2 linked regions of the Homo sapiens genome follow. The protein of the gene in region 2 purifies or fractionates together with the protein of the main gene of each other region. This does not show direct contact. Each region holds a gene or a part of one and is shown on either strand. Other genes may lie near its edges.

Region 1 (2,865 bases), on a different chromosome or scaffold from region 2:
TCTGCAGTAGGGGACCCAGAGTCCCAGGCCCCTGGAGTTGTTTTCGGCAGGGGCCTTGTCTCTCACTGCATTTGGTCAGGGGGGCATGAATAAAGGCTACAGGCTCCAACGTGTGTGGCAGCTTTCGGTCTTTCCCTCTGGGTGCTTGGTGTCCCATCTCTTTTCATGTCCAAGTTGCTTGCCAGCCTGGCCCCCTGTCTACAAAGCAGGCCAGTGGCCAGCAGGGTGGAGTCTTAGAGCAAAGGATGAGGTCATGCCTGGCTCTGGGCCAAGGAGGCGGGTGAAGGGAGTGGTCTGTAGCAGGGGGCTAAACTTAGAAACCTGTGGGTGGCTTCCCTGCCACCTCCCACTGGGTTTCCTCCCCCGAGTGTGGGGGCTGGGTTCCTCTCCAGCTGGGAGGGGATGTGACCCTCAGCAGGGCTGAAAGTCCCACCCTTCCCTACAGGGTCAGCTTAGGGGCTCAGGAAGCTGGGGCCAGGCAGAGGAGACATTATCAAGGCTTTTGCATAGAACAAGATTTTGTTTTCAGAGTTTTCTTCCTTCCCCTTCCCCCAATTGTTAGCAGCTTGATGTGTCATTCTCCCCAGCAGGGGAGGGGGTGGAATGGCTTGGGTTGTAAACTCCCTCCCCCAGCCTTCCTGTCCCTTGGAGGGGCAGTTCAGCTGGGTTCTGGTTCAGGGTCAGGCAGGCAGTTAAGGCTTGGCTGGTGCGAGAAGGCTGGGTGCTGTGTCTTCAGAGCTCATTCCTCCACTCTGGCTCCACTTGCAGAGACAGGCCCCCTTCACCCTCCCGCTCCTGGGGGAGGTAGTCATGGCTGTGGGGCCCTGGAAAGAGAGAAAGTACACTGTGTCTTCCTTACCACCTCCTCTGGCACTGTCCCCACCCTGGCCCAGCCATACCTGAGGTAGAGGGGCTGAGCTTGCTCAGACCTTGCAGTAAATTCTGTCCCTGTTGCAGGTCCAGTTTGGCAGGGAAGGGACACCCGGTATACCCTCCGTTTTCTTTACAGAACTCCAGGAATCTGTGGGGTACAGAGGAGTGCCAGCAGAGACTGGAGGCTAAGCCACGGTCCTGTCCCATCTGAGCTGTACTTGCTCAACCTCTGGATGTCATTTAACTTATAAATACAATAGTGATGCTGTGAAAATGGACACATCTGAGGATTAACTGAGCGATAAGCAAGCGCTTAAAAAAGATCCACCTGCCCTAGGCAGGGGCTGTGGCCACTAAGAGGGAGAATGGGGTGGGAATGCTCACACTTTCCAGTCAGGGTCATGGCCCAGGAGAAGGGGGTTCCCCACGATGATGAGCAGGGCCTTGGCCCGGGTCACAGCTACATTGAACCTCTGGAAGGAAGAAGTGGTGTGGTCATGGGAGGGAAGAGCCCCGAGAATGGAAGAATTCCTGCCACCCCGACCAGCCCTCAAACCTTGGGGTTCTTAAGGAAACCCAGATTAAAGTCCAGATCCAGCTGCACAAAGCTCTGGCTGCTTCGCACGGTGGAGATGAGGATGACGCTTCGTTCTTGGCCTTGGAATTCTTCTACTGAACCCACCTAGTGGGGAAAGAGGCAGGGCCTGAGACCAGCCAGGGGTGTCAAAGGGGTGCCCTACCCCAGGGAGCTTGCCTTCCAAGGAGGGTACAGAGAGGTCACTGGGCAATTGTAGATCAGTGAGTGAACCAGTGCTGCGACACGGCCCAGGGAAAGGGGATGGGAGGTAGGCTGTGGAAGCTGAAACATGAAGGTTGAATCCTGCTGAGGGCTGGGGCCTGCAAAGTGTTCTAAGGAAAGAAAACAGCATTGCAAAGAACACGGGAACTCAGAGCAGTGACTTTCAAACTTTCCTGAAAACAATCACTAAGTATCTGTTAAGAATATACAACCCTGGGCCCTAACCCGGACCCCCGATCAGAATTTCCAAGAGAGAGGCCTGTAAGTCTTAGAGCAGTGTTTTCAACCCTGGCTGCATATTAGAATCACCTGAGAAGCTGTAAAAACTACCAGTGCCCTGGCTCTGCCCCGATAGCTGTATGAGCTGGTGGGTGGGGCCCTGGCATGGGGGCGGGGTATTAAAAGCTCTCCAGGTGATTGTTATCTGCAGCCAGTGTTGAGACCAGAACCTTAAGAGAGAGGCTACTGGGGGTGGGGGTGGCAGCATCACATGACAGGCCACGGAATTTGGACTTTATCCTTAGGGCAGAGGCCTCAAACCTGCCTCAGTCTAAGAATGACAGGAGGTGTTTGTTAAACATGCAGGCTTCCTGATCCCATCCCAGACCCTTAAGTTGGAATCTCCAGGAGTGAGAGGCTCAGGGAGAGCTCGAGCTCTATTCAAGGCAGCAGGGGTGGGACGGGGACGTGGGCTGGAGTGGAAGCTTGAGGAAGTCTCTGGAAGTGGGCAAGTGGGGGCACACGGAAGGCAGGGAGTGACTGTGGAACAGCATGTCACCTTCAAGTCCTTGATGTCATCCAGTCCTCGAAGCTCCCTGTCAAGTTTGGTGATGCAGTAACGGATTTTCTCCACCTGGAAGGAGGGGACAGGTGCCTTTCTCTCGTGCCATTAACCTAATGCAAGAGGGAGCCTGGCAGGAGGCCAGGGAGCTGGGGAACAAAGGGAGGCGGCAGCTGACCTTGGTGCTCTTCTGAGATACGGAGCCAGCAGAGGCCTAAGCTCCTGGAGCCTCTGCCTAGTGGTCTGGATATTAAGGAGGTACCATCTGGGGGAGGGGCCCCACCCTTGCTGGTAACTGAGGACCTGACCTGTTTCCGGTACGGGGAGATGACGCCCACACTTCGAGGGCTCAGGCGAGCTTTGCCCTTCTTGGAGGAGGGGGCCAGGAGCAGCTTCAGGTAGGAAGTCACTG
Region 2 (5,825 bases):
TTTGGGAGGCTGAGGCAGGCAGATCACGAGGTCAGGAGTTCAAGACCAGCCTGGCCAATATGGTGAAACCCTGTCTCTACTAGGAAAAAAAAAAAAAAAAAATTAGCTGGGCCTGGTGGCACACATGTGTAGTCCCAGCTACTCGGGAGGCTGAAGCAGAAAAATCGCTCGAACCCAGGAGGCGGAAGTTGCAGTGAGCCGAGAGCGTGCCACTGCACTCCAGCCTGGGTAACAGAGCGAGGCTCTGTCAAAAAAAAAAAATAAAAATAAAAATAAAAAATAAAAAAGCAATGGCGCTGTTGTAAATTTAATTTACCGTCTCGTTCTCCAGATTCACTGGAAAATAACCCCCATCAAACTTCTGTTGAATGAGTGGGCTTTCCCCCTAGCAGTAATTATTCATGAATATACTTATTTGGCTCCACAATGTACATTTAACTTCAAGCATCCAACTAGTTTTTGCATAGGCCAAATACAGAGGTCGTGAGTTATAATTTATTTTCCTATACTTCAATGGCTCGACTCTTGGCCTAAGCAAGCACTAAATAGACTAATAACTACCCACCCATGTCAACTGACTGCATGGCTGGCTCCCAAGTGAAGGCATGGTAGAATAGGGAGGGAACGGCAGCCACCATGCAAGAGGAGAGTCCTCCTTGGTTGGAGCCCATGCGACCTGAGAAAGAGGCATTAAAAAATGAATAAATAACCCAGTGACACCCTCCGCCCCAGTCAGTGCAGCCACAGGAGATAGGGTGAATTCAATCCAAATGGTTATTTATTCTAAAACTGGAAGCTACTTTGCCTACATTTTCGCCAGAATGGTGTAATGAGAACAGGGGAGGAAAAAGTTACAGATGTAAACAATGACACAGTTACATTTTTTTTTTAAATGGTAAAACCCCTTTTTACTGGCCACTTCCAAGAATGCTTTACAGGTTGTGCAAAAACATTTACAGGCTCCATGTGGTGTTTTTCTCACAAGCTTTCCTGTCTACAACTACAACAGACGTCTGATAAAACACTAAACAAGTCTTCTAAGGAAAACAAGGCTAGGGATTCCTCTGGTTACCATAATCCACATTTTCCCCCTTAACATAGTTTTTCATAATAAAAAGACAGAAACAAAACCCGGACATCTACTGTTGTTGCAAATGATCTCTTGGACTAAACCAACAAGGATGTGGCAGTTTCACTTTCCACCCACCTAGAAAAACAGTTTTGTAAAAAAGATTACTTTCTAGTGTCAAATATCAACAGCGAGTACCTCCCCTAACCCCTGCTGGAAAAAAACTCAACTTGATTTAGTTTAGTCCCCTTGCCCCTAAGGGCCCTAGCATCCCCATCCATGTCACAGACTACAAGAAAGATGCTATTTGCAGGACTAAACATCTGAAAAGGGGTGGCAGCCACTGCCTCAGGAAATTCAATTTTCTATTATAACATAATCTTGCCCTAAGGGAATTTCTTTGGGCTCCAGTTTTTACCTCCTTGCCTTGACATTATAAGCAAAGCTTTCTCAAACTCCCTTAATAATAATACAAAGTTAATGTGTTACAGAAAAATTCATGCAATCACTCCACTGCCACACAGAAATCCATTTGAGGACACCGCAGGGAAGCAGGTGCCAAGAGAAAGGACATGACTATGAGTAAGCAAACTTATCTCCTACCAGCCCCATTCCAGCCTTGGGGTCAGAGGTATTTGGGCGGAAGGGTGTGTCATGACAGACAAGGACACTAGAGGCCAGAATAAGGGTCTGTACACCTGAACAAGGGCTGCAGGGCAGTAACAGTGGGAGGAGGAGAGGAAGACCAAATCAGCCCACAATTTTAAACAGAGAACTGCCCAGGTGAGGAAATGGAAGTGAAGCATTTTCTAGTGGCACAGATTTTCTCACTAGGAACTGCTGCAGTATGTGGTGTCTGCTGAGTAAGCTCTTGGCTGACAGTGCTGAGCAGGAGGATGAATGAAAACTGAAGCTAGACATTGAAAGAGCATTCCATATCCCACCCATATTCTTGAACCCAGCAACCTACAGCTGTCTATCAAGAACTGGGAGGGTATTGGTAAAGTCACAAATGAAACTATCCCAACTGAAGGCTCCTGGCTAGAGGCCTCTCTGGGGACACACAGGGAAAGCGCCCCAAAAGGAATTTTGTTTCTAGAAGTCGGGAAGGGGTGCTCCCTTTCACACGCACATTTACACACGTTCACACTCACACTCTTCCCAAGGTTCAGCAGCCCCACTGAGCTGCCTCCCACCCCCCCCCACCACCCTCCCCTCTTCTATTCATTCTCTACCTGTGTATCAAAAAAACCAGCAGGGCACGAGCCCTCCACACTGTAGAAAATAGTTGCTAGTTGCTATTCTCAGCACCTGGGCCTGTGAGCCCACACCACAGGATTCACCTATATACATATCCCGCTGCAGTGAAAAGAATCCTGCTGTGTTTTCGTGTGAGCTGAAACCCTGAGAAACGTTCCTTCTCTCGCACTGTAAGAGGACAGACACTCTAACAGGGATGATTTCAGAGACCTCCCACCTCTCTCAACCTTGGAAGACAGAGACTAGAGACTGGCAAATCACAATCTTTAGGCTGAGGGCTGCAATCCCATTCTCCCCAAGATTTTACAGGAATTAATCAATGGGTCTATAGAAGGGGCAGGCTATTCTGCTCTGCCATCAAGGACAGTCCCCAGGCTTTCTTGGCCTGGGAATCCTGTAAAATAGAACCACCCACTGGCAGTCTCCATGCCTCAGCCAAACAGCACAAAGGCACAGGAAAATGGAGAGTTGGGACACTGTAAGCCTCCCAGCCCACCAGACCACATATCCCAAAAGGGAAAGGTCGGTAAAGAAAATACAAACGGTTAGTTGGTGCAAGTGATTGATAAGAGCCAATCGTTTATTTTCACTGTCCCAGTCACAAGCTCTCCCTCTGTCCCCACTCCTGCCTGCTCCTACCTGCTGTGGAGAGCACCCTCGCGCTGCCTCCCCACCCTCCCCACACCACCTCATCACTCTCCTTTACTTGGCTGCCAGTCCAGCTGCCTCAGAATGTCAGAAGGGTGCCATTTTCAGTTCTTTTCCTGTCTGACTGTAGGGTATAGAACAGGCAGCCCTAAGTGCTGCTTTCTGCGCAAATGTTTTTTGATTACAAATCTCTAACTAGGTTTGAAATGTTTTATAGAATAAGACAATATTCTTTTCAACAAACTTTAAAAAAAATGTACAGTTTTGTTGTTTGTTTCCACCTCCCCCCTCCCCCACCCCTGCTTGAGCACCCTCCCCCCCCACCACCCCTCCCCGGCAGCTCAGCCCCACCCCGACAGCCCCTGTTTTCCTTGGTTGTGTTTTGCGGGGGTGCCTGGCACCCCCAGAGATTCAGCTTCATGGCTGACAGGTGACCATGGCAGGGGCTTCACCGATACCCTTGGTACCCGTAGTAATTCCTGTAGTATCGGTCTCTGTCCTGGGGGTGGTGGTAGTAGTAACTCTGCCACTAGAAGAGAGGGAAACCCCATCACTTGGAGCCAGAGCTGGCTGAGGATGAAGAGGCATAACACTCATCCTTCTGCTCCTGCCCCCCTTCACCCTGTGTCTATCCCAAGAAGATACTCACATCCCGATTGTATTGTCTGTAATAGTCTCTGTATCTGTTGTACTCATAATCTCGCCCGTAAAATCGATCATAGTCTCCCCTGTATCGATCATAGAAATTACGGTAACCCTGAGAAAGGAAAAGAAAAAGGAGTGAAGGTTTATGGGTTTTTGGCAGCATGACCCACCGTGACCCCCTTTTAAATGCGACACATCTTAGCTCGATATTATAAATTGGTTTAATTTTCCCATAGTAAATCTTCCAGAACATATTAAATGGGCAAAACCCTAAGCCCTAAGAAAACAGGCAAACCACTCTGCTCCCCCAAGCCAACAGAATGGCTCTCACAGCCCAGAGTGAGGAGCAGAAGGAGAGCTGCACTCACCCCTCTGTTTCCAGGCTGCCCCCAGTACTGCTGCCCGTAGGCCCGGTTGTCGTAGCCTCGGCGCTGCCCGCCCACTGGAAGAGAAATGGAGAGCGCGCTCAGACAGCTGGCATGGGGTCCTGGCTCCACATCTGGGTGGAAATCAAAAACTTGGAGCCAAAGGCAATTCTGGGGGAATATGAGGCCTGCTTCGGCCAGGCTCACACATGTTAATTAAAGCACCAGCCAGGAACTTTTAAAAAGTCTGAGGGGGGAGGGCAGAGGAACAGAGACACAAGAAAACCAAGCCACTTTGTTTTTGAAGCTCCCCAATTCCTGCAAAACATTTAAGATGGCAAAAGGATACATGGCAGAGTTAGAAACATAAGGAAAAACTGCCATTCATAGAATCAGACTTTCAGCCCTGGAAGGGATTTCAGATATCGTATAACCCATACCTATCATTTTATGCAAAAGAAACAAAGTCTCTGTAATCAGCTCCTCAAGGGCGGGAACTGTCAGCATTTACAGTACCTAGCACATAGCAGGCACTCGGAAATTCTGCTGACTTAACAGTTACACACACACATACACACACATTTTTAAAGAGCAGTGAATGCACACTGGGGTTTTAACTGACAAACTAGACATTCAGGGGGAAAATTAATTCTACTAATAGCCTAACTTGCTTGGTTAAGTTCTTCCCCCCACAAAAAACACTGAATAAAGCATTCGCTTTCTTGTTAATCGAAATGACACAGAAGCAAGAAAACTGAAGATGAGAATTTGATTTCACTGCACAAATCCTTCAGATAAGACAGGAACAGTGACACTGGGAACCCATATGTTAAAATGAAAACTAGATAGATGAGAAAGCCCAAGCATTGCTTTTCAAAGAAACAAATACTTTTGTGAAAAGTAACTCTTTTTTAAAAAAGAGGATTTTTGTTGTTGTTGAAGAATTATGGAAAAAGCACAAGAAAAAGGCAGGGATAAAGAACACAGGAAGAAATAAGCTCCATGAAGAAGGCACTTCCGTATTGTTAATGACCTGACTTGGTTTCCTTGGCCTTCCCTTGCACATCTTGCTGTACTAAGCACAAAGAATGGACTGAAGTAGGGGGCTGGCAGGTCCCCAAGACTCACCATAGCCTTGGCCCCGGCTTCGGTTCTGCCGGTTACGCTTGTTTCGGTTGTTTCGGCGATTTGTCCGCTTCTCGGAGGGGGGCAGAAGCTTCCTTGCCTCCTCCTTGTACTTAGTGACAATGGGCTGAGCTTCCTCCTTCTCCAGCTCCCCATATGTCACCTCATCCATATAGTCGCATTTTTCAGGCAAAGAGAAGTTGGCTATAAGAGTAAGAGAGAAGCTTGTGGGCCTGAAAAGTGCATAGATGGGTAAGAACTCATTATGAAAACTCTACAAGAAGCATATGACTTTCTATGCCTCATCTATTACTGCACAAAAATGTGCTACGTTTATACCCACTCGCATCTAAATAATGACATTAACTTTTTCTACTCTAAGTTTTCCCTAAATTGTAACAGACCCAGGCAAAGGGCTATGTAGATTTACAAGTTCTTAAGTGATCTATAATAAATTAGGAGTGAACTGGGTTAAAGTTTCTCATCAGGACAGAAGCAGGTAACCAGAGGCTAAAAGTAACTGAGAAAGTTCTGGTGTTGGTCAGATAAGATGCTAAGAAATAACATTTTAAAAAGAGACTCAGAGATGGCCGGGCATGGTGGCTCACGCCTGTAATCCCAGCATTTTGGGAGGCCAAGGCAGGCGGACTGCTTGAGGTCAGGAGTTCGAGACCAGCCTGGCCAACATGGTGAAACCCTGTCTCTACTAAAAA

The links.
Region 1: the proteins of HNRNPUL2 (region 2) and MOV10 purify together in Homo sapiens (affinity purification with mass spectrometry; 2 studies listed by BioGRID and IntAct, with this or other methods). This does not show direct contact.

Annotation. Positions count from the first base shown.
Region 1 is NC_000001.11:112,698,375-112,701,239, reverse strand, and holds the end of MOV10 (helicase MOV-10), read right to left. Parts: coding exon 2,762-2,865; intron 2,603-2,761; coding exon of another isoform or gene 2,567-2,602; exon of another isoform or gene 2,526-2,566; coding exon 2,451-2,525; exon of another isoform or gene 2,427-2,450; intron 1,783-2,426; coding exon of another isoform or gene 1,669-1,782; exon of another isoform or gene 1,556-1,668; coding exon 1,430-1,555; intron 1,347-1,429; coding exon 1,258-1,346; intron 1,022-1,257; coding exon 900-1,021; intron 825-899; coding exon 733-824; 3' UTR 501-732; downstream 1-500.
Region 2 is NC_000011.10:62,711,874-62,717,698, forward strand, and holds the end of HNRNPUL2 (heterogeneous nuclear ribonucleoprotein U-like protein 2), read right to left. Parts: intron 5,317-5,825; coding exon 5,116-5,316; intron 4,065-5,115; coding exon 3,991-4,064; intron 3,735-3,990; coding exon 3,627-3,734; intron 3,507-3,626; coding exon 3,426-3,506; 3' UTR 757-3,425; downstream 1-756.